Linked DNA regions of Homo sapiens. The protein of the gene in region 1 interacts with the protein of each later gene in a biochemical or structural test. Each region holds a gene or a part of one and is shown in the gene's direction. Other genes may lie near its edges.

What was found.
Region 2: the proteins of IRS4 (region 1) and CSNK1G2 form a complex in vitro, tested with the Homo sapiens proteins (one study listed by BioGRID).
Region 3: the proteins of IRS4 (region 1) and CRKL form a complex in vitro, tested with the Homo sapiens proteins (one study listed by BioGRID).
Region 4: the proteins of IRS4 (region 1) and SSH1 form a complex in vitro, tested with the Homo sapiens proteins (one study listed by BioGRID).

Annotation. Positions count from the first base shown.
Region 1 is NC_000023.11:108,733,564-108,741,439, reverse strand, and holds the start of IRS4 (insulin receptor substrate 4), read left to right. Parts: upstream 1-4,876; 5' UTR 4,877-5,095; coding exon 5,096-7,876. UniProt on the Homo sapiens protein: Acts as an interface between multiple growth factor receptors possessing tyrosine kinase activity, such as insulin receptor, IGF1R and FGFR1, and a complex network of intracellular signaling molecules containing SH2 domains.
Region 2 is NC_000019.10:1,965,163-1,972,182, forward strand, and holds part of CSNK1G2 (casein kinase I), read left to right. Parts: intron 1-3,628; exon of another isoform or gene 3,629-3,743; intron 3,744-4,345; 5' UTR 4,346-4,610; coding exon 4,611-4,797; intron 4,798-7,020. UniProt on the Homo sapiens protein: Serine/threonine-protein kinase. Casein kinases are operationally defined by their preferential utilization of acidic proteins such as caseins as substrates. It can phosphorylate a large number of proteins. Participates in Wnt signaling.
Region 3 is NC_000022.11:20,912,537-20,920,414, forward strand, and holds the start of CRKL (crk-like protein), read left to right. Parts: upstream 1-4,870; 5' UTR 4,871-5,398; coding exon 5,399-5,709; intron 5,710-7,878. UniProt on the Homo sapiens protein: May mediate the transduction of intracellular signals.
Region 4 is NC_000012.12:108,784,575-108,791,594, reverse strand, and holds part of SSH1 (protein phosphatase Slingshot homolog 1), read left to right. Parts: intron 1-2,350; coding exon 2,351-3,607; 3' UTR 3,608-7,020. UniProt on the Homo sapiens protein: Protein phosphatase which regulates actin filament dynamics. Dephosphorylates and activates the actin binding/depolymerizing factor cofilin, which subsequently binds to actin filaments and stimulates their disassembly.

The DNA of each region.
Region 1 (7,876 bases):
GAGGTTTTGAGTAGCACAGAAGTAAAGAAGCTGAGAAGCAAAGCCATCATCTACAAACAGTGGCTGCAGCCACAAATCACAGGGCAGCCCTCATTCCTGCATAGTGTAGAAAGCATCTTTCATTGTACATGATTTATGTCCCAACACAGAGAAGCAATCGTCATCACTAACATCATTTTTTAATATCAAGGGTGGCATCACATTTTTATCAGCATAATTGGACGTTAGCTCATGAAGCTTTTAGAATTAATACTTAGAAGATAATTTATACGTGGGACAAGAATAATAGTTTTTTGATACTGGTTACTTTTCCTCTTAGGTTTTATTCTCTTGAATAATGTCGTCCATATTTAATACAACAGTTTAATTTTTAAACTAAATAAATCCACACTTGAATTACCCATTTCGATTTTAGTACAAGTTGAGTTTAGAATATTCATGATCATGTATGTAAGAAAAGAAGCAGATGAATTTTTGTTATCACTGACAAGTCAATTCAAACAATTGCTTTCTTAAAACAGGACTCACAGGAAATTCCTTTTAAAAGCACACATCATTAAAGGCATATTTCTTCATTAGTTGGAATTGGTTTTAAAGGTATTGTGGCTATTTATCCATTTACATTAGTTTATAGCCATAAAATGCCAGTTACAATGCTTGTGTTTTTTATCCCTTGAGTTGAATTGGCAAACTAAAACAAGAACTATCTTTTAAGTCTTATTATTTATTATCTGTTGTTTTAAAAATCTGTATTTCAGACCCTTTGTGCAGATTCCAAACTTTACAGTTGTAATAACTGAATATGCAAGGCAACTTTAGCCTTCTGGGATAAACTGTCCTAAAATAAAAACAAAAACGAAAAAAAATAAGAGACAGGAATCTATAACCAAGAGAGGGTAGAGCATTAAAGCCACCACTGAGTGAGTTCAAGCCAAATAAAAATTCTCTACATTTTGCCTAAACCATCTAGATATCTGTTTTACTTTGCCTATGAGAATCTGACCTAAACTAAATGACTATTCTATATCATTAAGTTGTCCAGGAAAATGAAAATTTAAATGTATGTCAGACAAGCTCTAGCATCTGGTACAATTCAGTAATGATGGTCTGCTCTACAGAGCTTCAGTGTTGAGACAACTTTAGGACTGAGAAGGTTTGGTTGACCTGTAGGAAGAAAATAATGTTCTAGTCAGACATTCTCCCAGTTTACAAGTACTCATGCTTGCCAGATTAGGAAAGATACAAAGTAAAATTCTTCTGTGAAGCATCTCACTATAGCTCTAATTCCACTTCGCTGCAGCCAAATAATATACCCTGGGTACAAAGTGATCAGCACTGTTCATCTTTCACTGTAATAGTTTAGAAATTATTTTCACACTTCTTTTTTTAACACATTGATTAATGCTAGATATTTCCCCTTAAAATAGAAAATGTCTCATAAAGTATTATTTCAGAGTGATAAATAAAATTTAACTAATTTAGATGCTCTCATAATTTGTTGACAAAAGAAGAAACCTATTTCTCCTTTTAAAAGAGCATATAAGCTGAAATATATGAGATCTTTTAAAAGAAGTTTAAAAGTGACCATGGTGACACTTGTATCAACAGCTCCCTTTCAAACTGTGCTACAAATCACATCATGCCCAATTTACATATCTTTCAAAATAGAAGAAAATCAAGTTAAATGTGATTTTTAAAGTCAACAGACTGGGGAAAAAAAACTTGCAACAAATACCACAAAGTTTTAATGTATTTATTACATAAACAAGTTACACATAAGAAGAAAATACTAAGAATACAATAGACAACACAAAGGACATAGGAAATAATATAATGTCAGTGAATATATATAAATGTTTAATCTCACTAGTTAAAAAAAAAAAGCACATTGAAAGAATAGTGGAGGCCAGGTGCAGTAGCTCAGGCCTGTAATCCCAGCACTTTGGGAGGCTGAGGCAGGTGGATCACAAGGTCAGGAGTTCGAGACTAGCCTGGCCAACATGGTGAAAACCCTTCTCTACTAAAAATACAAAAAATAGCTGGGCATGGTGGCGGGCACTTGTAATCCCAGCTACTTGGGAGGCTGAGGCAGGAGAATTGCTTGAACCCGGGAGACCGAGGTTGCAGGGAGCTGAGATCACGTCACTGCACTCCAGCCTCGGTGACAGGATGAGACTCCATCTCAAAAAAAAAAAAAAAAAGAATAGTGGAATACCGTTTCACCCATCTTATCTCTAATTTTTTAAAAATAAGAATGTCCAATGCTGACAATCAGTCTGGTGACAGGGTAAACTAATATAATATTTTTGAAAAATAATGTATTAAATATTCATATCTTTTAGCCTACTAATTCCAGTGCTCAGTTTTTACCCAATGGGAATTTTAAAAGGCTGTAGGTAGAAGATATTCATTGACATGTTATTTATAATACTGAAAAAAATGAAAACAACCTAAATGCCCCAAAGCAGATGATTAATTACATTAATATTCATCGATTGTGTTGGATAATATGTTGTATTTTAAATGATATTTATGCTGATGCATAATAATATGGGGAAATATTGTATAATGTTCAGTGAAAAGAACAGGATGCAAAATTATATAAATTGTAAGCCTACTGCTCTATGTAAAAACTATATGTACAGGAAAAAGGACATGAGGATTTAAAAATCTCCAGTATTTTCCCATTTCATTTAATATTCATTTTGATATTTTCAATGTCATGTTATTACTCAAAGCACTTTCAAATATGTTGCCTTATTTGTCACATTTCTCTTTAAAAAAAAAAAGAAAAAAACCTTGTGCTTGGAAAGACTTATAAAATATCCTAATGACTATCAAACAAAATCCCAAATGAGAGCATTTGTTATCATTTTGGTTGTAAGTGCAGGGAATCTTGTATATATGTGACTACGCAGCTGAAATATGTAGCAGTCACAGTCAGGGATCTCTCAGCATCCACACTCGTTCTGCCTCTAGCTCCCTTCCGAAACCACGGCTGCTTCCAGCACCTGTGAATATATTGCACTTATAAACCATTGGCAGCAGAGGGAATGTTATTGAATATTTGTAATATCTGGGGGACAACCCAAACCAATTTCTTTTTCTCTTAAATTATAGCATCAAAAAGGAGCCATTTATTCAAATACGTGTGTTCTGTTTCTAACAGAGCAAATTCTTAAGAGGGCAGAAATATGGTTTATTTTTATGATATACATATTGCCTAGTTTACTGTTGGATTTTATAAATAGTACCCTTTGCCATATCAACCCTAGAGCAAGGGTGAACTGACATTCCATTCTTTCAGAGAGAAATGCTGTATTTCTCTCCTCCTCTCCCTCCATTCCTCTTTGCAAACCTGGTCACTCCTTTGATAATTCACGACCCATCTCCACCATTAAGAGTCTAAAATCCTAGTCAAGTAATAACTGGGGTGGTGGGGGAGAGAGGGAGAGGGAGAGGGAAAGGGAGAAGGAGAGGGAGAGAGAGAGAGAGACTTGAGGAGGTTGCACTTACACTCCGGCAGTTTTTCCAGAAATGAGGGAGGCAGTAGTTCTTACTTTTGTGATGTCAACTTGTAGACTGAAATGCATCAAAGCTCCTCTTCTTCTTCTTGTTGACGCGAGGGATGTGAAATGTGCTCTAGAATATGCATTCAGCGTGGTCCTTTGTTCTAGGTATGAGCTTTTCTTTTTCTAAAGTTTTTCGGTCTCGCTCAAGGAAAGGAAAGCAATATTTTGAGATTCTTTTAAAGGCACCTTCCAAAGCATTTCCCACAGAAAAATACCTTCACAGCCCAACACTGGTTATTTCAGTAAGAATCGAGTCCAATTTTTTCCAATATGGCTGTATACATTGCAGGCCCCCAAATTTGTGCTTTCATAGTCATCGTTAATCAAATAGGCAGAAACACTGTATTTAGGGAACCTGTGTTTCGTGGGCTAGAAGTGCATTCTGATTAATAAAGATCATGTTCATTTTGAATGCATCGCTGTTATTCGTGTGCCTCAGAGTCGCGGGCTTCTGTCAGGGGTGCAGCGGGCTCGGGAGTGCCTGCAGAGCGGTGGGAAGCAGTTCTGAGCGCCCTGGTCGTCAACCCGTTTTCAGGGGGTGCCGACACTTTCTCCCAAGAAGCTCGATCCGCCGCCTTGTGCGGCTGGAAAGAATGAACCAGACTGTGACAGGAACAGAGAATTTATGTGATTGACAGGGAGTACCAGGGCACCCGACTCCATCCCGGGTCACCACGGCTCTGGGATTTGCACGAGTTTACCACCACCATTAACAGCTATTTGCGTAAGGTTGTTTACCGCCTGAGAGCGCCACAAGCCGACAGCGAAGCCACTTTGGGACCCCAGCCACGCCCCCTCTCCCCTCTCCCCTCTCACCCCTCCCTCCCGCCAAACTAATGATTTCGGGGCTGCCTTCTTGCCGGACCCTCCCATTGGCTCCTATCCCAACCAATCAGAGCCTTGCAACAGTTTCACCTGGCTCCCGCTTCCCAAATAAACAAACAAACTGTCCCGCGACTGTGCCCGCTCTGCACCCTGGCGCCGCAGGCAGGCACTGCTTGCGCTACGCCCCCTCCCACCACCTCCCACCAATGGGGCCCCGACTGTGGCGCCCTCTCCCGACCCTGATAGCCGGCCGCTTTCTCCTCCGCCCCTCCAGGCCTTCTCCCGCCCCCTCATGCCTTCCTGGACTCCCTGTTAGAATCAGCTTGGCCAGAGAGCCCGCCTCCTCCTCTCGGTCCTCCCTTGGCCCACAGGCCTGGAGATTGACCGGGAGGATTTGGCACAGCCGGAGGTGGCTCCGCCTCCCGAGCCCGCCGTCTCCTCCCTTGCTCACCTCTACTGGTGGCCGCTCGCGCCCCTCCATTGCGCCGGTAGCAGGATCCGCAGCGGCCGCCGCGTGAGGCTGTGGTCACGTGTTGTTTTGCCCGCTGTCGTGCGCTCAGAGTGGAGTGGGCGGGGGCGCGGGCCAAGGCAGGAGGGGGCTGGGGCGGGCAGACGAGGGTAGACAGCCTCTTCCCCCAACCCTCCCTTTCCTGAATTCCCCCTCCTCCTCGCTCACCTTAAAACCATCGTGCATCACCATGGCGAGTTGCTCCTTCACTCGCGACCAAGCGACAAGAAGACTAAGAGGTGCAGCAGCGGCGGCAGCGGCAGCTCTAGCAGCAGTGGTGACCACCCCGCTTCTTTCCTCGGGAACCCCGACCGCACTCATTGGGACCGGGTCGTCTTGTCCGGGAGCCATGTGGCTCTCCACGGCCACTGGCTCCCGGTCAGACTCCGAGTCCGAAGAGGAGGACCTGCCCGTCGGGGAGGAAGTCTGCAAACGCGGCTACCTGCGGAAACAGAAGCATGGGCACAGGCGCTACTTCGTGCTCAAACTCGAGACTGCTGACGCCCCAGCTCGGCTGGAATACTACGAAAATGCCAGGAAGTTCCGGCACAGTGTCCGCGCCGCGGCGGCTGCAGCAGCGGCGGCCGCCTCTGGCGCCGCGATCCCCCCGCTCATTCCACCGCGGCGCGTGATCACCCTATACCAGTGCTTTTCCGTGAGCCAGCGAGCAGATGCAAGGTACCGACACCTCATTGCTCTTTTCACCCAAGACGAATACTTCGCGATGGTGGCCGAGAACGAGTCGGAGCAGGAAAGCTGGTACTTGCTGCTCAGCCGCCTCATCCTCGAGAGCAAGCGCCGCCGCTGCGGCACGCTCGGCGCGCAGCCGGACGGAGAGCCGGCCGCGCTGGCGGCGGCAGCGGCGGCGGAGCCACCCTTCTATAAAGATGTGTGGCAGGTAATAGTCAAACCCAGGGGGCTGGGGCACAGAAAAGAGCTGAGCGGCGTGTTCCGGCTGTGTCTAACCGACGAGGAGGTCGTGTTTGTGAGGCTGAACACCGAAGTGGCCAGCGTGGTCGTCCAGCTCCTGAGCATCCGTCGCTGTGGACACTCGGAGCAGTATTTCTTCTTGGAAGTAGGCAGGTCCACTGTCATCGGTCCGGGAGAGCTCTGGATGCAGGTCGATGACTGTGTGGTTGCCCAAAACATGCATGAGCTGTTTTTGGAGAAGATGAGAGCCTTGTGTGCAGACGAATACAGAGCCCGCTGCCGCAGCTACAGCATCAGCATCGGCGCCCACCTGTTAACCCTGCTGTCCGCTAGGAGGCACCTGGGCTTGGTGCCGCTCGAGCCGGGAGGCTGGCTCAGAAGGTCCCGCTTTGAGCAGTTTTGCCACCTCAGGGCCATCGGCGACGGGGAAGACGAGATGCTTTTCACCAGGCGCTTCGTAACACCCAGCGAGCCTGTGGCCCACTCCAGGCGAGGAAGACTGCACCTGCCCAGAGGGCGCAGGTCAAGGAGAGCGGTTTCAGTGCCGGCCAGCTTTTTTCGCCGCTTAGCACCCAGCCCAGCACGTCCCCGGCACCCTGCAGAAGCCCCGAACAATGGAGCTCGCCTGTCTTCTGAAGTGTCTGGTTCTGGCTCTGGCAACTTTGGGGAGGAAGGCAATCCCCAGGGCAAAGAAGATCAGGAAGGAAGCGGAGGTGACTACATGCCTATGAACAATTGGGGCTCAGGAAATGGCCGGGGCTCAGGAGGTGGCCAGGGCTCAAATGGCCAAGGCTCCAGTAGCCATAGCTCGGGAGGAAACCAGTGTTCAGGCGAGGGACAGGGATCCCGAGGTGGTCAGGGCTCAAATGGCCAGGGCTCAGGAGGAAACCAGTGCTCTAGAGATGGCCAGGGCACCGCAGGTGGGCACGGTTCAGGTGGTGGCCAGAGACCTGGAGGTGGGCATGGCTCAGGTGGTGGCCAGGGACCTGGAGATGGCCATGGCTCAGGTGGTGGCAAGAACTCTGGGGGGGGCAAAGGCTCAGGAAGTGGGAAAGGATCCGATGGTGATGGTGAACGTGGAAAATCTCTGAAGAAAAGATCCTATTTTGGCAAATTAACTCAAAGCAAGCAACAGCAAATGCCACCACCTCCACCACCTCCTCCTCCACCCCCACCAGCTGGAGGAACTGGTGGAAAAGGGAAGTCTGGGGGAAGATTCAGACTTTATTTTTGTGTTGACAGAGGAGCCACGAAAGAATGCAAAGAAGCCAAAGAAGTGAAAGATGCAGAGATCCCAGAAGGTGCAGCTCGAGGTCCCCACAGAGCCAGAGCTTTTGATGAAGATGAGGATGACCCATACGTGCCAATGAGGCCAGGGGTGGCCACCCCTCTTGTAAGCTCCAGTGATTATATGCCAATGGCTCCTCAAAATGTCTCTGCTTCAAAAAAGCGCCACTCTCGATCCCCTTTTGAAGATTCAAGAGGGTACATGATGATGTTTCCCAGAGTGAGCCCACCACCTGCTCCGAGTCCTCCAAAAGCACCTGATACTAATAAAGAGGATGACTCAAAGGACAATGACAGTGAGAGTGACTACATGTTTATGGCTCCTGGAGCCGGTGCAATTCCAAAAAACCCCAGAAATCCTCAGGGTGGCTCTTCCTCCAAAAGTTGGAGCTCCTACTTCTCTCTACCAAACCCTTTTCGGAGCTCACCTTTGGGACAGAATGACAACAGTGAGTATGTGCCAATGTTACCTGGAAAGTTCCTGGGGAGGGGCCTAGACAAAGAAGTCTCCTATAACTGGGACCCCAAAGATGCAGCTTCAAAGCCTTCAGGTGAGGGATCATTCTCAAAGCCTGGAGATGGGGGATCACCTTCAAAGCCTTCAGATCATGAGCCCCCAAAGAATAAAGCTAAGAGACCTAACCGACTTTCTTTTATTACAAAAGGATATAAAATCAAGCCAAAACCACAAAAGCCCACACATGAGCAGAGAGAAGCTGACAGCTCTAGTGACTACGTCAACATGGACTTCACT
Region 2 (7,020 bases), on another chromosome or scaffold:
AGGCGGGCAGATCACGAGGTCAGGAGATCGAGACCACAGTGAAACCGCGTCTCTACTAAAAATACAAAAAATTAACCGGCCGTGGTGGCGGGCGCCTTTAGTCCCAGCTACTCAGGAGGCTGAGGCAGGAGAATGGCATGAACCCAGGAGGCGGAGGTTGCAGTGAGCCGAGATTGTGCCACTGCACTCCAGCCTGGGCGACAGAGCGAGACTCCGTTTCCAAAAAAAAAAAAAAGATCATTGTTTCCATCCCTGCTAGCACAACATCCAGCCTGTAGCCTGTGGATCAATGAATGAATGAATGACTCGGAAATCAAGATGACTCCTTGACATGTCATTCATTCATTTATTTATGCATGACAAGGTGTCCCACTGTCACCCAGGCTGGAGTGCAGTAGCACGATCTTGGCTCACTGCATCCTCCACCTCCCGGGTTGAAGCAATTGTCTTTCCTCAGCCTCCTGAGTAGCTGGGGCTACAGGTGCGTGCCACCATGCCCAGCTAATTTTTATATTTTTTCATAGGGGGTTTCACCATGTTCCTCAGGCTGGTCTTGAACTCCTGAGCTCAAAGCAGTCTGCCCGCCTCAGCCTCCCAAAGTGCTGGGACTACAGGCCTGAGCCACTGTGCCTGGCCAAGTCTTAGTGTTTTTGAGGCACGGTCTCACTGTGTCTCCCAGGCTGCAGTGGAGAAGCAGAATCACAGCTCACTTTAGCCTCCACCTCCCAGGCTCAAGCGATCCTCTCACCTCAGTCTCCTAAGTAGCTAGGACCACAGGTGCGCACCGCCATGACTGGCTAATTTTGTTTTTATTTTTGTAAAGATAGGGTCTCCCTGTGTTGCCCAGGCTGGTCTTGAACTCCCGGCCTCAAGCAGTCTGCCTGCGTCAGCCTCCCAAAGTGTCGGGGTTACAGGCAGGAGCCACCGCAGCCGCCCATGACTCTCATTATTGAGAAATACATTTGTAAGGCTCTAGGTGCCTGTAGGTGCCGTGGAGAGCAATTCCTCTGATGGAGCTGGGGAAATTGGGTAAATTGAAACCCCCGGAAAGGCTTTGCCGTTCTAGAGGCTGTGAAGGACACGCGTGATCCATGGGAGGAGGTAACATGTCAGGATGAGCGGAAGTTTGGAAGAAGTTGGTCCCAGGCCTGAAAGATCACTGTGAGGGTTCAGGACTTCAGTGGAGGAGGGACTGTAGAGGTTTTAGAAGCAGCAAGAGAACTAGAATGAGAAGGACTTGGAGATGTGACTGCATTGTCGCTGTCTCGCGAGAAAACTTTAACACGTGAGGAGTTGCCTCTGAAGGGTGAGCAGGGGAGTTGCTTCAGTTGCGCTCTAGTCCCAGTGAAGATTCTGTGAACCTGGGGGTAATGAGGACAAAGAACTTGGAACAGCCCGGAACCTCGGTTGATGAAGCCGCGGCCGGGTTGAGAGGACCGACTGCAGTTCTGAAAGACGTTCTGCTGTGGGTAATCAATGCTATCAGACAGCATCACGCCCCACAGAGAAATCTTTCATGAAAGGAAGAGTCCATCGCTGTGGCCAACTTTTTTGTGGTCATAGTTTAAGAAGTTGCCCCAGCCTCCAGCAGCCACCGCCCCAACGAGTCAGCCGCCGTCCACATTGAGGCAAGACCCTTCTCCGGGGAGATTAGGGCCACTCCCGGTTCCCATGATCATTACCATTGCTTAGCAGTAAAGTATTTTTATTTCTTTATTATTTATTTAAGATGGGGTCTTGCTGTATCCCCCAGGCTGGAGTGCAGTGGTGCGATCATAGCTCACTGCAGCCTCCGCCTCCTGGGCTCAAACGATCCTCCCGCCTCAGTCTCCCGAGTAGCTGGGACCACAGGCTTGCACACCACGCCCCGCTTAATTAAAGTGTGTCCTTTGATTAGACACAACGCTACTGCACACTTCCTAGACCACGGTATACTGTGAACGTAACTTGTGTGTGCACTGGGAAACCAGAACATTCGAGCGGCTGTTGCCGTGCGGAACCCAAGGCCTGTGATCCCCACAGGGTGTTTCTGGCACCGGAACGCAGGGGCCACATCCAGGGGGGCAGTGCTTGTGACGCCGGTGCCTTCGTTTCTGATGTGGCTTACTCAGCTGGGAGTTCCTGTCCTAACATTTTCGGCGATGGCTGTGCACCCACGGCCCCTCTTCACCCGCGGCCCCTACGTCCTGCCGGTTGGCAGGAAACCTCTTCCCCTGCACATCTGGGGCACAGCAGCAAACTGTGGTCCCCCTTCTTCAGTGAGGGTGGGGCTTCTGTCTGTCTGGAGCCCTAGAATGGGGCCAGGGGTGGCTGGGGCCTGGGTCAGGGAGGACCCGGCAGGATCTGTGCAGACAGGCAGGTGGCTGCGGTGGCTCCCGGTGCAGGGTTCTTGGCCTCCTGGGCGGGTACCTGGCTTGAGGGCGACGAGGTGACAGCCGCGTCCCTGGGGTTGCACCACCCGAGCGTCCAGTTAACACCACAGCTGCCACCCTTCAGTTCTGCAGGTGGGGCTCCTCCCTCCTCCCCAGGCTGCCCCCACCACCCTTCAGTTCTGCAGGTGGGGCTCCTCCTTCCTCCCTCCTCCCCAGGCTGCCCCCGACCACCCTTCAGTTCTGCAGGTGGGGCTCCTCCTTCCTCCCTCCTCCCCAGGCTGCCCCCGACCACCCTTCAGTTCTGCAGGTGGGGCTCCTCCCTCCTCCCTTCTCCCCAGGCTGCCCCCGACCACCCTTCAGTTCTGCAGGTGGGGCTCCTCCCTCCTCCCTTCTCCCCAGGCTGCCCCCGACCACCCTTCAGTTCTGCAGGTGGGGCTCCTCCCTCCTCCCCAGGCTGCCCCCGACCACCCTTCAGTTCTGCAGGTGGGGGCTCCTCCCTCCTCCCCAGGCTGCCCCCACCACCCTTCAGTTCTGCAGGTGGGGCTCCTCCCTCCTCCCTCCTCCCCAGGCTGCCCCCGACCACCCTTCAGTTCTGCAGGTGGGGCTCCTCCCCAGGCTGTCCCTGACCACCCTTCAGTTCTGCAGGTGGGGCTCCTCCCTCCTCCCTCCTCCCCAGGCTGCCCCAGACCACCCTTCAGTTCTGCAGGTGGGGCTCCTCCCTCCTCCCCAGGCTGCCCCCGACCACCCTTCAGTTCTGCAGGTGGGGGCTCCTCCCTCCTCCCCAGGCTGCCCCTGACCACCCTTCAGTTCTGCAGGTGGGGCTCCTCCCTCCTCCCTCCTCCCCAGGCTGTCCCGAGGCTCCTTGCTGGGGACCGTCCTGCCTCCCGTCGGGGCCTGCGCTGAGACTGGGCTCCATGCCAGCCGGGGCTGGCTGGCCCCCTCGCTCCAGAGAGCGACCTGCACAGAGTCCCCTCAGCCATGAGCCCCTGTCCAGACACGGCGTTTCTCTGTGGGTGGCAACAGGCTCTGGGGCCCTCAGCTCTGGGCTCGGGAGCATTTAAGGTGGTGCAGACTCAGCGAGGGGCTGTGGGCTGGGGTCCCACCATCCCGGGAGCAGGGACTGCGTGTTCCTTCTCAGGACCAGAGGCTTCTGTCTTTTCCCCTGGGGTAGAAGTTTGCTGCCTGCCCCGTGCCCAGCCTTGCTTAGGTGGCTGTTGGCTCCGCTGGTCCCTCAAGCCCCGCCATTCCCTCCTCAGCTCCGCTCTGCACCGAAGGGGATGGGTCCGACCCAGCCTGGCATCATCACAGCCTCGAGTGGCGTCCAGCCTGCCCCGCTCCACCAGTGGCTGCTGGAGAAGAACCCGAGCCTGGGTCAGGCCCTGGGGGCTCCTGCATCAGTGCCCGGCTCTCCGGGGCCTCCTGCCCTCCGGCCCACTCTCCCCGCTCTCAGCATCAACCAGTCGCCATGGGCAGGGGCAGCTCGGTGGCTCCTGTGTCCCTGCCTCGGGCCTGCCTGCTGTCATCTGCCTCCCTCCCTCTTTCCCAGAGCGGCCCTGGGCCTGGATACGGGGACTGTTGTGTGGCCCCTCTGTGTCTGGGGGTGCGACTGCTCCCCTGGCTTCAGGATCCTCAGGGCTTCTACCCGGGATTGGCAGTCATGCTCTCCTGGCAGTACACTCTCCCACCTGTGCCACCCACCCACCCACCCACCCATCCCGCTTTACAGAAAGCCCCCTGAGCCCTACCCTGTTCGTCCCCAGGCAGCCACGCCGAGATCTCTGGCCTCTGATGTCATGTGATGTGTGCTTCCCAGCTGGGTTCCGGGCAGGGACGGTGCTCATCATGCCCCGGCCTTCAGAGCTCCTTCCAGCCCAGCAGTCTCCTGGCTGTGTCCTCTGTGGCCTCCGCCCCGTGTCCTCAGTGGCCCCGCGGGGGCCTTGCCGGTGCTCACCTGTGCCTCTGTTTCTCTGCAGCTGTGAGCCGTGAGCTTTGAGGCGGTGGGATGTGTCAGCAGAATGTCTCCTGCCCCCGAGAGCGACCCCGAGGCCACTGAGAAGAGCAGCGCGGCCTGGCCGGCCCGAACGCCTGCGTCTCAGTAGCTGGGAGCCACGGGCCCACGCCCGCCCACCGGCCGCAGTGATGTTCTAGCCACAGAGGAGCCAAGACCTCAGGTTTCCAGAGACTTGGGATTTGCACGGCAGCAGAGTCACCGTGGAGAGGCCAGGGTATCACAAACTTATGGATTTTGACAAGAAAGGAGGGAAAGGGGAGACGGAGGAGGGCCGGAGAATGTCCAAGGCCGGCGGGGGCCGGAGCAGCCACGGCATCCGGAGCTCGGGGACCAGCTCGGGGGTCCTGATGGTGGGCCCCAACTTCCGCGTCGGCAAGAAGATCGGCTGCGGCAACTTCGGGGAGCTCCGCCTAGGTGAGGCCCTGCTCGGTGGTAGGTGGGGTCGGGAGGCTGCTGGCAGGGCCGCCCCGAGTCACCGGAGCCTCTGGTGGGGCCGCCCGGGGTCACTGGAGCCTCTGGCGGGGCCGCCCCATGTCACTGGCAGGTGCGTTGAATCATCAGTCCGTCGTGGTGCGAGTGCCACTTCCCTTCGAGGAGGTTCTGTGGGGAGAGTGGGTTTCTGGCCCTGTCACCTTTTCGGGAAACAGTTCTGTTGGGAGGCAGGTGGCCCAGAGCAGGCCAGGCCACGCCGCAAGGAGCCCGATGTTAAGTTGTGAATGACTTTCATGGCCCATGTGCACGCTGGGCGAAGCCCCGGCTTTAACGGCAGGTGCCTGCCCGGCACTCAGCTCGTGGGAGGTCTTGGCCAGCCCGGAGCTGGCGTCAGGTGGCTGGAGTGACTGTTCTGTGGTGATGATACTGCTGTGTGCCACTCCCAGCTTCACCATGTAAAAGGCCGCACCTGGCCCACCTGGCTCCGTCCCTTCTGCTCACACCAACCTCTCCCGGGTCGGGGTCTGATTGCCCGGGCAGGCGTGAGGAGCAGGGCCGAGGACTGAGCCTCTCATTGGCCAGGGGTGCCTTCCCTGGGGTGGGGGTGCCTGAAGATGACCATCAGGCCTGGGGGAGCTCTGAGCACCTTTGGGGCCGTTCCCAGTCTGTGATTAGCTGGGCCAGGGAGCTGAATCATCCCCGGAAATGTGGTTAAATTTATTGCTGGTGCTGCCGGAGCTCCTGCGGGAGGGCATTTGGCGTCTGTTGCTGGGGTTGTCCGGGGAACCCAGGTGCACCCCCAGTCAGTGTCTGTCGTGGTGGGAATCAGGGTCCCTGGGAAAGAGCGCAGGATGGGCAGGTCCGAGAGGCCACGGCAGTGGATCGGCCTCACGTGGGCACCCATGGCAGGCGGTGCCCATGGCACCCATGGCAGGCACTCAGCCCGATGAGGTTGTCAGATGAGGGAAACAGGCCCACGCAGTGGTCATGATGTGGCTGCATCTTCAAGAGCGGCCGCCCAGGGGCGCAGGAGCATGGGCTGTGGCGGCCTGGACCCCAGGCATGTTTTGTGGCCCTGCTTCCCACCTCCTGCCTCACTTTACCCACCTGTTAAATGAGGATGAATGGTAGTTGCCACTCGTGGGCAGAAGGGTTCAGCAGGCAGTTATGCGGCAGAAGTGTGTGTCCTATGAGTCAAGCAGCTTCTCCCAGGCGAGGGCAGCTGTTGGGGTCACTGTTGGCTGTTTCTGTGTTCCCATTGGTTGCACCCAGGGCCCCAGGAGGCCGGGGTTTGAGACCCCACCCGAACCAGATCCCACCCCAGCCCTTGGGGAGGCTGCTGGGATTCCACCTCTGCGCAGAGGCTGGGCTTGGGCCACGAAGCCTCACTGCCGGTCCGACGGCCTGTGGCTCAGGAGGCCCGGGCTCCGTTTCTCAGCCAAGAGACTGAGCTTTTCCCAACAGGAGCTGTGGCCTCCCAACCCCGTGTGTGTGTGCACGCTCAGACACACGTGCAGACACATGCAGACATGTACACACGTGCCCACAAATGCACATGTGCACACTAAAGCACACGCACACAGGCGCACACAGCCACAACCACGCATACACAGGCACACAGGCTCATCTGCACACACATGCCTGGCACAGCCCCGTGACCTGCAGCCTGCGGGGTATGGCTTTTGGGAACCCAGATGGCTATGTGGGTCCTGTCCTTGGGCGGCGGTTGCAGGCTGCTGAATAGTGCAGGTCCCTGTAGGCAGATGAGAGTGACGTGGGTGATGCCAGCTTTTTTTTTTTTTTTTTTTTTGAGACGGAGTCTCGCTCGGTCACCCAGGCTGGAGTGCAGTGGCGCAATCTCGGCTCACTGCAAGCTCCGCGTCCCGGGTTCACGCCATTCTCCTGCCTCAGCCTCCCGAGTAGCTGGGACTACAGGCGCCCGCCACCACACCCGGCTAATATTTTGTATTTTTAGTAGAGATGGGGTTTCACTGTGTTAGCCAGGATGGTCTTGATCTCCTGACCTTGTGATCCACCCACCTCGGCCTCCCAAAGTGCTGGGATTACAGGCGTGAGCCACTGCGCCCGGCCTGGTGACGCCAGCTTTTACTGAGTTGCGGTTTGCGCTCTCTTCAGCCTGGCATTTTGGGCGCTGTGTGCTTCGCGGGCAGCCGCACATCGTGGTTTCTCAGGGGTGCCGGGAGG
Region 3 (7,878 bases), on another chromosome or scaffold:
ATGTTAGCCAGGATAGTCTTGATCTCCTTACATCGTGATCCACCCACCTCGGCCTCCAAAAGTGCTGGGATTACAGGCATGAGCCACTGCGCCCGGCCTATTACAGCTTTTTTAATGGTTTCTTTCTGTTTCTCTACTCATTGCTGTTTTGCTATCTCAGCATTTAGTAACTTTTTTTGGAATGTTTTTGACAGGGTCTTGCTCTGTTGCCTAGGCTGAGGTGCAGTGGCACAATCAAGGCTTACTGCAGCCTCGACCTCCTGGGCTCAGATGATCCCCCAACCTCAGCCTCCTGAGTAGCTGGGACTTGAACACCTGGGCTCAAGTGATCTACCCACCTTGGCCTCCCAAAGTGCTGGGATTACAGGCATGAGCCAACATGCCCAGCCTGGAAAGTTTATTTTATGCTTGTCTCAACTGTGCTAAGGAAAAATAAAGGAAAGTATCTTTTACAAAAATTTTATTATGACAAATTCCAAACATACATAAAAGTATTATAGAATATAATTAACCCTACCCTCGCATCATGTCACCTGGTTTCAATAATTATCAATCTCACATGGCCATTCTTGTTTCACTTTTATCTAACCCACACCTTATTCCCCTCTGGAGTATTTAGAAGCAAAATGAGAGATATTTGGTTCTTTTTTTTTTTTTTTTTTTGAGATGGTGTCTCACTCTGTCTCCCAGGCTGGAGGGTAGTGGCACAATCTTGGCTCACTGCAACCTCCGCCTCCCAGGTTCAAGCTATTCTCCTGTCTCAGCCTCCTAAGTAGCTGGGACTACAGGTGAGCGCCACCATGCTCAGCTAATTTTGGTATTTTTAGTAGAGACAGGGTTTCACTATGTTGGCCAGACTGGTCTTGAACTCCTCACCTCAAGTGATCTGCCCACCTCAGCCTTGCAAAGTGCTGGGATTACAGGTGTGAACCACTGTGCCCGGACTTTACTTTTTTCTAAAAAGAGAGTTTATTTAAGGAAAATAGAGAGCAGAGAGTTTATTTTTACAATGTTTTTACATTGACTGGGTGCCGTGGCTCACTCCTGTAATCCCAGCACTTTGGGAGGCCAAGGTGGGCGGGTTGCGAGGTCAGGAGTTCAAGACCAGCCTGGCCAATATGTTGAAACCTGGTCTCTACTAAAAAATACAAAAATTAGCCAGGTGTTGTGGCATGCGCCTGTAGTCCCAGCTACTCAGGAGGCTGAGGCAGGAAGAATCACTTGAACCAGGGAGGCGGAGGTTGCAGTGAGCCGAGATCACGCCACTGCACTCTAGCCTGAGCAACAGAGTGAGACTCTGTCTCGAAAAAAAGAATGTTTTTACTTTTTTTAAAATAGAGATGGGGTTTTGCAATGTTGTCCAGGCTGGTCTCTAACTCCTGGCCTCAAAGGATCCACCTGCTTCACCTTCCCAAAATGCTGGGATTACAGGTGTGAGCCACTGCACCTGGCCAAGAGCAGATAGTTTATATAGACAGATAGTACACCCTGAAAAGATGAGGCAAAGAGGGCTGAGGCAAAGAGGGCTGCTGAAAAGGGAGTGAGCCAGCAGCTAATGTTCAATTATCATTTTTCTCTGGCTTCCTCCCATCTTTATCCATCTACATTCAAAAACCATACATTAAGTATGTATCGGCTGGGCGTGGTGGCTCACACCTGTAATCCGAGCACTTTGGGAGGCCAAGGCGGGCAGATTATGAGGTCAGGAGTTCGAGACCAGCCTGGCTAACATGGTGAAACCCTATCTCTACTAAAAATACAAAAATTAGTCAGGCATGGTGGCGCGTGCCTGTAATCCCAACTACTCAGGAGGCTGAAGCAGGAGAATCACTTGAATCCAGAAGGCAGAGGTTGCAGTGAGCCGAGATTGCACCACTACACTCCAGCCTGGGCAGCAGAATGAGACCCCATCTCAAAAAAAAAAAAAAGTATGTATTATGTGCTAGGTACTGGGAATAGAAAAAATAATATATAGCAGGCTGCCCTCAAGATGCTCAGATTGGGATGAGAAAAATATTTATGAACAATTACAATAGAATGTGATAAAAATTAATTTAGGCTGTGCCCACAGTGTATACATAGTAATCAGAGAGTATGGTCAGTTTTGGTTCTGCTTTTAGAATATGTGTTTGGAGTCACCAGAGATGTGACCCCTAAATGCTTCATGCTGATTATTAGCCTACTAAAGGAAAAACTATGGAGAGGTGAAGGACGCTCTGCATTTAGAGGGCAGAGAGCGGGTTGCTGTGGCTCACATCTGTAATCCTAGCTACTTTGGAGGCTGAGGCAGGAGGACTACTTGAGCCTAGGAATTTGAGACGAGAGTCAGCAACAGAGAGACATGTCTTTAAAAACAAAACAAAACCCAAAAAGCCTAATTCAGTCAAAGCATGGGTAGAAGCCAGATTAAGAAGGTTGAGCAGCTGGGTGGGTGGCTCACGTCTGTAATCCCAACACTTTGGGAGGCCAAGCTGGGAGGATTACCTGAGCCCAGCAGTTCCAGATCAGCTTGGGCAATACAGTGAGACCTCATCTCTACAAAAAATTTAAAAATTAAAAAATCACCACTAGGATTACAGGCGGTGGCTCACGCCTGTAATCCCAGCACTTTGGGAGGCTGAGGCAGGAGGATCATGAGGTCAGGAGTTCAAGACCAGCCTGGCGAACATGGTGAAACCCTGTCTCTACTAAAAATACAAAAATTAGCTGGGCATGGTGGTGCATGCCTGTAATCAATCCCACCTACTTGGCAGGCTGAGGCAGGAGAATTGCTTGAACCTGGACCTGGGAGGCAGAGGTTGCAGTGAGCTGAGATCACGCCACTGCACTCCTCCAGCCTGGGCTACAGAGCTAGAGTCCGTATCAGAATAAAAAAAAAAAAAAAGGGCTGGGCAAGGAGCAGGTGATTATGAAGTGGTAAATCTGACAGTGAAAAGTAGTTAGAAAACAAAGTGGAGATTTTTCTCTCCACCCTCACCCACCCACTGAGGGTGTATGCTCAGGGTTTTAGGGTATAGAGGTAGAGGCCCAGGGAATGACTGAATAATAATAATGGAAGACTCATATGATGCTTACTATGTGCCAGGTACTATTCTAAGCACTTTGCATATATTAACTTGTTTCATACATAGCTGGGCGGGGTGGCTCACATCTTGGCTGAGGGGGAGGATTGTTTGAGCTCAAAAGTCTGAGACGAGCCTGGGCAACATGGTGAGATTTCGTCTCTATTAAAAATCAAAGGCCGGGCGCGGTGGCTCACGCCTGTAATCCCAGCACTTTGGGAGGCCGAGGCGGGCGGATCACGAGGTCAGGAGATCGAGACCATCCCGGCTAAAACGGTGAAACCCCGTCTCTACTAAAAATACAAAAAATTAGCCGGGCGTAGTGGCGGGCGCCTGTAGTCCCAGCTACTTGGGAGGCTGAGGCAGGAGAATGGCGTGAACCCGGGAGGCGGAGCTTGCAGTGAGCCGAGATCCCGCCACTGCACTCCAGCCTGGGCGACAGAGCGAGACTCCGTCTCAAAAAAAAAAAAAAAAAAAAAAAAATCAAAAAAATTAGCTGGGCATGGCAGCGCGAGCCTGTAGTCCCAACTACTCGGAAGGCTGAGGTGGGAGGATCCCTTGAGATGGGGAAATCAAGGCTGCAGTGAGCCATGATAGTTCCACTGCACTCCAGCCTGGGTGACAGAAGGAGAACCTGTCTCAAAAACAAACAAAATAAAACAAACAGGCTGGGCACGGTGGCTCACGCCTGTAATCCTAGCACTTTGGGAAGCTGAGGCAGGCAGATCACCTGAGGTCAGGAGTTTGAGACCAGCCTGGCCAACATGGTGAAACCCCGTTTCTACTAAAAATACAAAAATTAGCAGGGCATGGCGGCGGACAGCTGTAATCCCAGCTACTCGGGAGGCTGAGGCAGGAGAATCGCTTGAACCCGGGAGGCGGAGGTTGCAGTGAGCCGAGATCGCGCCCCTGCACTCCAACCTGGTGACAGAGCGAGACTCCGTCGAAAGAAGGAAAGGAAAGGGAAAGGGAAAGGAAAGGGAAAGGGAAAGGAAAGGAAGAGAGAGAGAGAGAGAAAGAAAAGAAAAGAAAAAAGAAAAGAAAGAAAGAAAGAAAGAAAGAAAGAAAGAAAGAAAGAAAGAAAGAAAACAAACAAAAACAAATAGGGATTAATAAATAGGCAGAAGCAGGCATAATCCGGGGCAGGGGAAGCCTCGGGGCCACGCCCGAGAGGCATTTGTATTTTACTTTCAGCAGTTCAGAGCCCATGATAGCCAGGTTACCCACTTGTGGACTTCCTTGACCACTTAATTGAGTCAATCTAACCCTCACCTTCTCTCTCCTCTCACTCCATTTAGCGGGTCACGTAGCCACTAGGGCTTCCTTAGCCTATCAGGCCACCTGGGGACTGAGTCATTCAGTCAGTCACCTATCTGGTGGTCACATCTGCCCCTGGGCTCATCCTTTTACTGGGCCACCTCGGCCCATCGGGACCTGTCAGTCCTTGACCTCCCTCAGGCCCCTAGGCTGGCCAGGTCGCCTCAGTGCCACGCCTCCCTGGCCCGCGATTCAGCCTGCACGTTACGCTTTGTTCCCAGAAGCAGGTTTTCGAAACGCGGTTCCCTCTCGGCTCCAGCTGTTTTCCTGCCAGCGCTGGGAGACCCGGCAGCCGCAGCGCCCCCAGCGGCGCGCAGCGGCCCAGGAAGAGAGTGCCTACCGCCGGCGCCTCTTCAGCCTCCTCCTGGAACGCGGGAGCGGGCGCGACCAGCGCCCACCCTGATCGTCGCGACGGTGCTCCTGATTGGCTGCGCTGTGTGACGTAACGGGAGGGCCCCGGCGGCCGCCGGGAGCCGGGGCCCAGCGCGTGCGCAGACGGAGCGCGCTGAGCGGAGGGGGAGGTGGCTGCCGCTTCTCCCGCGTCCGCCATTTTGTTGCTGTGGCTATTGGGAACAAGCTGGGCAAAAGCACCCCGGAGGCGCGACGCTCCTTCGAGTTCGGTGCCTCGTGTGACGGCGGGGGTCGGTGAAGACCCGTCGAGCTGCGGCGCCGGCGCGTTCCAGGCCGGGAGTCACTGGAGGCACCCCTGGGACGCCGAGCAGCCCGAGAACCCCGGGGTGGCCTCCGCTGCGGCTCGGGTTTGCCTGCCCCGACCCCCCGGCTCTGCCGTGCATTCCCGGGCGGCTCTCTCCGTGTGGCGGCCCCGGAGCAGGCGGGCGGCGTCGGAGGATGCTGCGGGCCCGGAGCCGAGAGGAAAGTGCTGGCCCAGCCCTCTGAGCGCTCCTCGAGGTGTGCGAGAGGCCCTTCCTCGGCCCCAAAGCCGTCTGCCGGGCTAAGGCGTGCAGAGCAGGCGAGGACAGCCGCCGCCCCTACCGCCGCAGAGTCCCCGGTCCAACACCATGTCCTCCGCCAGGTTCGACTCCTCGGACCGCTCCGCCTGGTATATGGGGCCGGTGTCTCGCCAGGAGGCGCAGACCCGGCTCCAGGGCCAGCGCCACGGTATGTTCCTCGTCCGCGATTCTTCCACCTGCCCTGGGGACTATGTGCTGTCGGTGTCCGAGAACTCGCGGGTCTCCCACTACATCATCAACTCGCTGCCCAACCGCCGTTTTAAGATCGGGGACCAGGAATTTGACCATTTGCCGGCCCTGCTGGAGTTTTACAAGATCCACTACCTGGACACCACCACCCTCATCGAGCCTGCGCCCAGGTACGCGAGAGCCCTCCCCGACCGCGGAGGAAGGTCGAGAACCGGGTCTGTCGAAGAGTGCTTGTATAGGGGGGTGGGGCGCGCTTGAACCCATATTCCCCGCATTCTGAACCAAATTATTTTCCAGAAGGCCTTCCTAACAGAAAGCTAGTGTCAGGATCTGGGTCACTGGATAAGAGGATGCGTTTTTTTTTTTTCCCTCTCACGAGGCTGTTTCTCAATGTGAAGAGGATGCGTTTTGAATGTTTAACGGTGGTTGCATAGTTAAAATGCACGCTTTTTGCCTTTCGTGACTTTCTCTGGGTGTAATACTGATGCAGGGATTTGTTGGTTTTTCTAAAAACCTCTTTTTTTTTTTTTTTTTTGAGACGGAGTCTCGCTGTGTCGCCAGGCTGGAGTGCAGTGGTGCGATCTCGGCTCACTGCAACCTCCGCCTCCCGGGTTCAAGCGATTCTCCTGCCTTAGCCTCCCGAGTAGCTGGGACTACTGGCTCACGCCACCACACCCAGCTAATTTTTGTATTTTTAGTAGAGACGGTGTTTCACCATGTTGGCCTGGATGGTCTCGATCTCTTGCCCTCGTGATCCGCCTGCCTCGGTCTCCCAAAATGCTGGGATTACAGGCGTGAGCCACCACACCCGGCCAAAAACCGTTTTTAAGCCATAGACTTCTTTGAGAATCTGAAGATAGCCGAGCACTCACCACCCCACCCCCACCCCCACCCCCACCCCTCCCCGCCAAAGGCACGTACACACAAGTTTGCACACCATCCCGGGTGCTTGTACTCCCTCCAGATCTCTGAACTCCAGGTTAAGAACTCCAGGACTGCAGCCTTTGGAACAGTCAAAAAAATGAAAATGCTTTAGCGTTTAGAAACAAAAAAACCTTTAACCAAAATATCAGAACTGTATATTGATACTGTGGTGCCAAGTTTGAAGCAGGCCAGACACCACCACTTTTATAGTACGTTAATTACAAAGATAAGAGAAGGTGCATTGGCTTCAGCGAGGATATTTTTTGGAAAATTTATTGCATATTTTCTCCCCGAGGACCATTAGTAGGCCAGAGATCAGTCTGGTTAATTTCCAAGGTGGAATTAGGCTAGAATGTTATTAAGGAAAATTTTTGAATGACACTTAGTTGTATCCTAGTTCAATTTCAGACATGCTTTTTGTGTTAAGTCTAATGATTTTGTATTTCTTATTTTAAAATTAACGCAAAGTGACCAAGCATTCTCTTTTCCAAGTGAAATACGTTATTTTAATTGATTAGTTGCTTTAATTTGCCTTAAGCGTTTTAGCAGAGATTTGCTTTTATTGTTGTGTTTGCCCTGTAACACTGATTTTATCAGAGGTTTCTTTTATTTAAATTATCCCAAATTTGAGTTGAAAAGTTGCCTAGAATTTTTAAAGTAACAAACTGGCCAGTTCGTTTCTTAAACATCTATTTTAAAAGGACTGGGTGTTGATACAGTTTTTCCAGGGTTAGATGTTTATGACTTTATGGATTTGTCGACCGGGTATTACTCTAAACTTTAAACATTAAAAGCTATTATAATTGAGGACACCAACTGTTTGCATAGTGGGATAGAGATAGAAAAAAAAAAGCCATGACAGTATAATGACTACAAGATTAACTACTGAACTAAATGGACTTTAAAAGTGGGGAGAAAGTGATTATAAATCAAATACTGTATAACAAAGACCAGGACACCAAGAATCTGATTGGTGAAACCTGCGGTTCCTGGCAGATGCTGGTAGTTGCAGTCAACTTTGAGCACAATATAATTCCAATTTAAGGAGTTGAGAATCTTAGAACCCACTGTAGTGAGATTTGTAATATGACTGAATAAATTCTTCCTCTCGTTTGTGAGCGTGAATTATATAATTAATACCAGGCATTCATTAAGCCATGCATATGCTTATGTTGAGGTCATGAGTACTAATAATACAGCTGTTTCAAAAAGCAAGTTAATGGGCGGGTGTGGTAGCTCACGCCAGTAATCCCAGCACTTTGGGAAGCCAAGCCGGGCGAATCACGAGGTCAGGAGTTCAAGACCATCTTGGCCAACATGGTGAAACCCCGTCTCTGCTAAAAATACAAAAAATTAGCTGGGCGTAGTGGTGGGTGCCTGTAATCCCAGCTACTCGGGAGGCTGAGGCAGGAGAA
Region 4 (7,020 bases), on another chromosome or scaffold:
TGTAGAGATGAGGTCTTACTGTTGCCCAGCCTGGTCTCAAGCCATCTGCCCACCTTGGCTTCCCAAAGTGCTGGAATTACAGGTTTGAGTCACCACGCTTGGCCTCAGATATATCATTTTATTCATAAATGCTCCAGTATGTTAACATAGCCACAATACCATTGTCACCTTTTAAAAAAACTGATAGGGCCAGACGCGGTAGCTCACATCTGTAATCCCAGCATTTTGGGAAGCCGAGGCAGGCAGATCAGGAGGTCAGGAGATGGAAACTATCCTGACCAACATGGTGAAACCCTGTCTCTACTAAAAATATAAAAATTAGCTGGGTGTGATGGTGCATGCCTGTAATCCCAGCTACTCAGGAGGCTGAGGCACGAGAATTGCTTGAACCCAGGAGGCAGAGGTTGCAGTGAGTCAAGTTCGTGCCACTGCACTCCAGCCTGGGTGACAGAGCGAGACTCCGTCTAAAAACAAAAACAAAACTGATAGTAATTTCCCAACGTTGTCAAGTATCCAGCCTTCCAACTTAGACTCTAATACTTAACTCCATTAGTCTCTTGGAGTTGCCATTTTTAGTGGATTATCTGCCACAAGGTTTGAGCTTCAACCTGGTGCTTACTGAGAAATTGGTTAATTCCAGCCAACCTTTTCCCTCCTCCATGGGGGAAGTGATGCAGGAGCAGAGGCTGGTTCAGTGGAAGGGTGGCCGTGCAGCCTGGTCTCCACTTCCACCCTTGCCCTGCTGCTGACTTTGTTGCCTCTGGCTTCACCTGCCCATCTCACAGGACAGCCGTGGTTCTCAAGTGGGGGCACTTGGGGTCCTGACAGATGCATTCAAGTATACAGCCAGTTTATTATTATTAACAGCATGTTATAATGCAAACAAAACTGGGCAGTTGCATCTGTCGACCTCCATAAAGCATTCCAAATCAAATACTAATTATGGATTTCCCCCACTTCCCTGCCTACCACAAAGCAAATACCCATAAAGACAGATGAGATAAAACCCTGGGCCAGGTGCAGTGGCTCACGCTTATAATCCCAGCACTTTTGGAGGCCAAGGCAGGCAGATCATCTGAGGTCAGGAGTTTGAGACCAGCATGACCAACATGGTGAAACCCTGTCTCTACTAAAAATACAAAATTAGCTGGGCATGGTGCCGCACGCCTGTAATCCCAGCACTTTGAGAGGCTGAGGCGGGCAGATCATCTGAGGTCAGGAGTTTGAGACCAGTCTGACCAACATGGTGAAACCACATCTCTACTAAAAATATTAAATTAGCTGGCTGTGGTGGTGCATGCCTGTAATCCCAGCTACTCAGGAGGCTGAGGCAGGAGAATTGCTTGAACCTGGGAGGCAGAGGTTGCAGTGAGACAAGATCACGCAATTGCACTCCACCCTGGGCAACAAGAGCGAAACTTCATTTAAAAAAAAAAAAAAACTGGAAGCCATGGCGGGGCCTTTAAGCAGGTGGGTGATGAGCCCCCTCTGGCTGTGGTCTACAGGCAGGCTGCTGGGGTAAGAGGGGAAGTTGGGATGCTGGGATCACAGTGGCTCAGAGGATGGGGCAAGGACATAAGGAGGTGTTGAGAGACAGAGCTGGCGGGGTGTAGTCGCTCACACCTGTAATCCTAGCACTTTGGGAGGCCGAGGCAGGAGGAACACTTGAGCCCAGGAGTTCGAGACCAGCCTGGGCAACATAGTAGGACCTTGTCTCTTATCTGTTTGAAAGAGAGAGAGACAGAGCCCTGTTGCCCTCCTGCCTTGTCCTGCCCTCCAGCCTACAGTCCTGTGCAGGCGGGGTGGGGTAGGGGGGTGCCCTCCTCCTTCCTGCTTTGCTTCTGGACCTGCATGCTGCTCTCTCTGGCTGGTCAACACCTGCTTGTCCCAGAAGCCTCAGCTGAAGTGTCAGTTCCTCTGGGAAGCCTTCCCTCCGCGGAGACTTAGAACTTGTCCCTCTCTCCCCTGGGACTCTTCACACAGCTTTCTAGTCCATTCCCAGGACCACTGGGTACCTGTCAGTTGGCCTGTAAGGAAGTGAAGGGTGGGGACACAGAGGCATGTGTCACGTTCACTTAGATCCTCACTGACCAAAAGGCAGGAGGGTTTCCTTAGGAAACAATGTAAACTTGTTTTCTATTGGGGTATAAAATCCACCTCAGGCCAGTGGTTATTCTCGATCAAGTGGGCTCCAGGAGGTCTGTCTGTCAGTATTAAGTGAAATGAGAGCCTCCCCTCCAGGCCTGGCCCCCAGTCCGGCCTCGCACCCCTTTCCCTGCCCACCCTCATGTTTTTGGTCTTTGGCTCATGACTGCACCGTCTCACCATGCTCTTGTCCCCTTCCTTGCAGGATGATGCTATATTTGGGATCCTTAACAAAGTGAAGCCTTCCTATAAATCCTGTGCCGACTGCATGTACCCTACAGCCAGCGGGGCTCCTGAGGCCTCCAGGGAGCGATGTGAGGACCCCAATGCTCCCGCCATCTGCACCCAGCCAGCCTTCCTACCCCACATCACGTCCTCCCCTGTGGCCCACTTGGCCAGCAGGTCCCGTGTTCCGGAGAAGCCAGCCTCTGGCCCAACCGAACCTCCCCCGTTCCTACCACCAGCAGGCTCCAGGAGGGCAGACACCAGTGGCCCTGGGGCTGGAGCTGCCCTAGAGCCACCAGCCAGCCTTTTGGAACCTTCCAGAGAGACCCCAAAAGTCCTGCCAAAGTCCCTCCTTTTGAAGAATTCTCACTGTGATAAGAACCCTCCCAGCACAGAAGTGGTAATAAAGGAAGAATCGTCACCCAAGAAAGATATGAAGCCAGCCAAGGACCTGAGGCTTCTGTTCAGTAATGAATCTGAGAAGCCGACAACCAACAGCTACCTGATGCAGCACCAGGAGTCCATCATTCAGCTGCAGAAGGCAGGCTTGGTCCGCAAGCACACCAAAGAGCTAGAGCGGCTGAAGAGCGTGCCTGCAGACCCAGCACCTCCCTCCAGGGATGGCCCTGCCAGCAGGCTGGAGGCCAGCATCCCCGAGGAGAGCCAGGATCCAGCCGCGCTCCACGAGCTGGGCCCCCTGGTTATGCCCAGCCAGGCCGGGAGTGATGAGAAGTCAGAGGCCGCCCCCGCTTCATTGGAAGGAGGCTCACTGAAGAGCCCCCCTCCTTTCTTCTACCGCCTGGACCACACCAGTAGTTTCTCAAAAGACTTTCTGAAGACCATCTGCTACACCCCCACCTCCTCTTCCATGAGCTCCAACCTGACCCGGAGCTCCAGCAGCGATAGCATCCACAGTGTCCGTGGGAAGCCCGGGCTGGTGAAGCAGCGGACACAGGAGATTGAGACCCGGCTCCGGCTGGCGGGCCTCACCGTCTCTTCCCCACTGAAGCGCTCACACTCTCTTGCCAAGCTGGGGAGTCTCACCTTCTCAACGGAAGACCTGTCCAGTGAGGCTGACCCGTCCACCGTCGCTGACTCCCAGGACACCACTTTGAGTGAATCTTCCTTCTTGCATGAGCCCCAGGGAACCCCGAGGGACCCAGCTGCAACCTCCAAACCATCAGGGAAACCCGCCCCAGAAAACTTAAAGAGCCCTTCGTGGATGAGCAAAAGCTGACCCGCCTTTTGCTGCGTCAGGCTGGGCGGATATTTTCATATGATCCCTCCCTCACTTTCACTGTGGATTTGGATCGACCCCTTACATCTTGATTTCCCTTAAACGAGTGAAGTCATCCTAACTTTTCCCCTACTCTTGCCATAGAGAGGAGGAGAAGAAACTAACCAACATGCAGCACAAGAAGGGGAGCTGTCAGTCGTGTGGCCTGGGAGAACCAGGAGCCGCCGGCCAGGAGACACAAAACTCCGCTCCCACCGTGTCTTCAAGAAGAACCATGTTTTAGGAAGAACGTGCACACATAGGCGCACACATCCAGACTGTTCCCTTCGCATCCTGCAGAAGAGTCCTGGTGGTGGCAGCCTCACCGCGGCACACGTTCTAGCTCATTCTTGGCCTCGCAGAAAACTCTCGGATGGCAACATTAAGTCCTACCTCTGTTCTCGCTGCGCTTTTTATTTTTAAAACACACGAATGACCAAGGCTTGTTCCAGGGAATAATGCTCTGTCTGAAAGCGTTTTTCCAAAAAAAGAATTTTTCGTTTTGTGTTTTGGTTGGGACCCCAGACGTGTCAAGACTTTTAACCCGACAGCCCCAAGCACTGCTGAGTAAAGTCATCAGATGAGTAGTCCCACGCTGTTGTTGAGCTGACTCTGTGCCCGAATGGTGGTGCAGGCGCCCTGTCCTGGTTGTGTTGTTACGTGTTTGACCAGCACAGGGGTCCGGTGGGGAAAATGTATGGGTTGTTCTCAGTTGTTGCTAATGCTGAAGTTTAAATCTCAAGGGGAAGGGCCCACCTGCATTGTTGAGTGTCTGCTGCTGAAACACATGATTGTGTTTAGGTTTGAAATTGCTCAAGTGTCTGGCTCAGGTGGTGGTTCTGAGACACATCGTCCTGCTGAGAGCCCAGATGCTTAGGTCCACTAGGGCCCATCTAGGGAAGGGAAAGGAGATTTCAGCGGCTTCCCCGAAAGGAACGGGACTGTCGGGATGCTTCCCGGATGTCTACAGTTGCCCCTTCCTGCAGTGAGATTACTGCTTCCTGTTTCCCTCCAGCTCTTCCCAGCAGCAGTGAGGGAGTATAAGAGGGATCTGTAGTCGCTGCCTGGCTCTGTGGGCGGCCCCTTTAAGACTCAGGTGAGCTCAGCCAGTCCCGCTGCGCCAGGCTTGAATCAAAGGTGTCAGCAAGCTAGATGTCAAAACATTTCGAGAGAGAGGCAGCTTGCAGAAAAGCAGAAAGGTTGAATTCAGGGGTCAGCAAACTATGGCATGTGGCCCCGTGAGCTAGGAATGGTTTTTCCTCTTTAAGACAGGGCCTGGCTCTGTCACCTAGGCTGGAGTACAGTAGTGCAATCATGACTCACTGCAGCATCAACCTCCCTGGCTCAAGCGATGGCTTTTACCTTTTTAAGGAGTTGTAAAAAAAAGAAATAATATGTGACAGAATTCATGTGGCCCACAAAGCCTGAGGTACTTACTGTCAGGCCCTTTGTAGAAAAAGTTGCTGACCCCTGGTTTGATTTGCCACACAGGGCTGCTCATGGCCCTGTAGGAAGAAACTGGGTAAATGTGAAGCCCTCTGCCTCTCTGACACCTAAGGCCAGACCCTTCCCTCCTCCCGACCACAAGCTTTGCCAGCCCCGCACTAGCCTCACCTGTGCAGGATGGAGTAGGTTGCGTACATGGGGGAAGGCAGGTGAACACAGTTGGCTGAAGCTCTTCCACAATTCCATCTTGCCCTCAGCTGGGTCCGCCAGATTAACTCAGTGAAACCAGAAAGCCTTCAAGGACCAGCTGAATTCTGAAAGTGAGTGAGTGAGCCATCATCTTAACATTGGCCAGAACTGTGTTCCCCAAAGCTATTCTAGAAAGCACCCCAGGAGGGATCTGCAGGAACAAGGCTAGTTCATATTTTACCTAGTGAGCACAGTTTTTGCAAAAATCCTCCCTCCAGGACTTTGTCTCCTTGGAGTGATTTTTAAAAATACATACATTACTTTATAGGGAGCTGTTTTCCCACTAGTGTCAATTAAAATCACCTTAAAAGGTGATTATCCACTTATTCCTAAACCCCTGTGGGTTGTTCCCCCTTTCCCTCAGCCAACAAAAGCATAGCCTCAAAAAATATCAAGTTCGGTATGTTTTGCCAAATCAAATTTCATGTGGTAGATCAATTTTTGTGTCAAAATAATCTTTTAAATTTAGTGATGACAGGCTTTTGTTGGTTTTTTAACCACGTCTATGTATGAGAATGATATATTTTTGAAAACTTTAATTTTGAAAGCCATAATTTTTCTTATCTAAAGAGTTGGGGGGTGGGGTGTGGAATCTGGAGAGTACAAGTTGGTCTTTGGCTTCTGGCAAACTTACCCATTCATTTTTGGAAGCACAGCTAGCATATCAACATCCAGACGAGAGCGCTGGTCCCGTCCACAGAGCAGAGTGAAGCATTCTGGACTTGATGCTTAATAGCCTGGCCTGGAGAAAAGGGTAAGGTTTATTTTTGGAAACCCAGATCAGTTGCATGTAAACAGATGGCACATGGCTATTTAAAATGCTGTATGATGGGGCCGGGCGCGGTGGCTCACGCCTGTAATCCTAGCACTTTGGGAGGCCGAGGCAGGCGGATCATCTGAGGTCAGGAGTTCTAGACCAGCCTGGCCAACATGGTGAAACCCCGTCTCTACTAAAAATACAAAAACTTAGCTGGGTGTGGTAGTGCGTGCCTGTAATCCTAGCTACTTAGGAGGCTGAGGCAGGAGAATCGCTTGAACCTGGGTGGCGGAGGTTGCAATGAGCCGAGATCGCGCCACTGCACTCCAGCCTGGGTGCAATGAAACTGGGAGTGAAACTCCGTCTCAAAAAAATAAAATGCTGTATGAACAAGATGAGCATTCTGTCAGGTGTCGGGACACCTGGGCAAAGACGAATTCATGCTGTCTGTGAAAAGGAAGTTTGCACTGTAACATATGCCATAGCTTGGCCCTTGCTTTGTATGCAACCTTAGCTGATGGGGAAAATTCCAAACATAAGTGGCACAGGAAAGAGGCAGGCAGAGGAGGCAGGGGTCTGTGCTGTGCAAGTCACTGGTTTTTTATGACTATCATTTTCATTGAATGCATTTGTTGAATTGGGACAAAAGGAACATTTTCTAAATCAGCTTGATACTCTTTATAAAAAACAGCTGAATCTTATCTTCTGCCTCACATTAATTCATGTGGCATGCCAAAAGTTAGACTGAACTTTTCTACATCTTCACCTTGCATTGATACAGGAAAGTCTTCTCTTTAAGTCTTGCTAAGTATAAGGGGGATAGTGGTCACGGGAAGAGGAGAACCGGGGCTGCTCTCGGATGGTAATTGACAATGCCGATTTCCATTTCTTTGTCTTACGGCTACTTCCGAGCCTTCTAGCA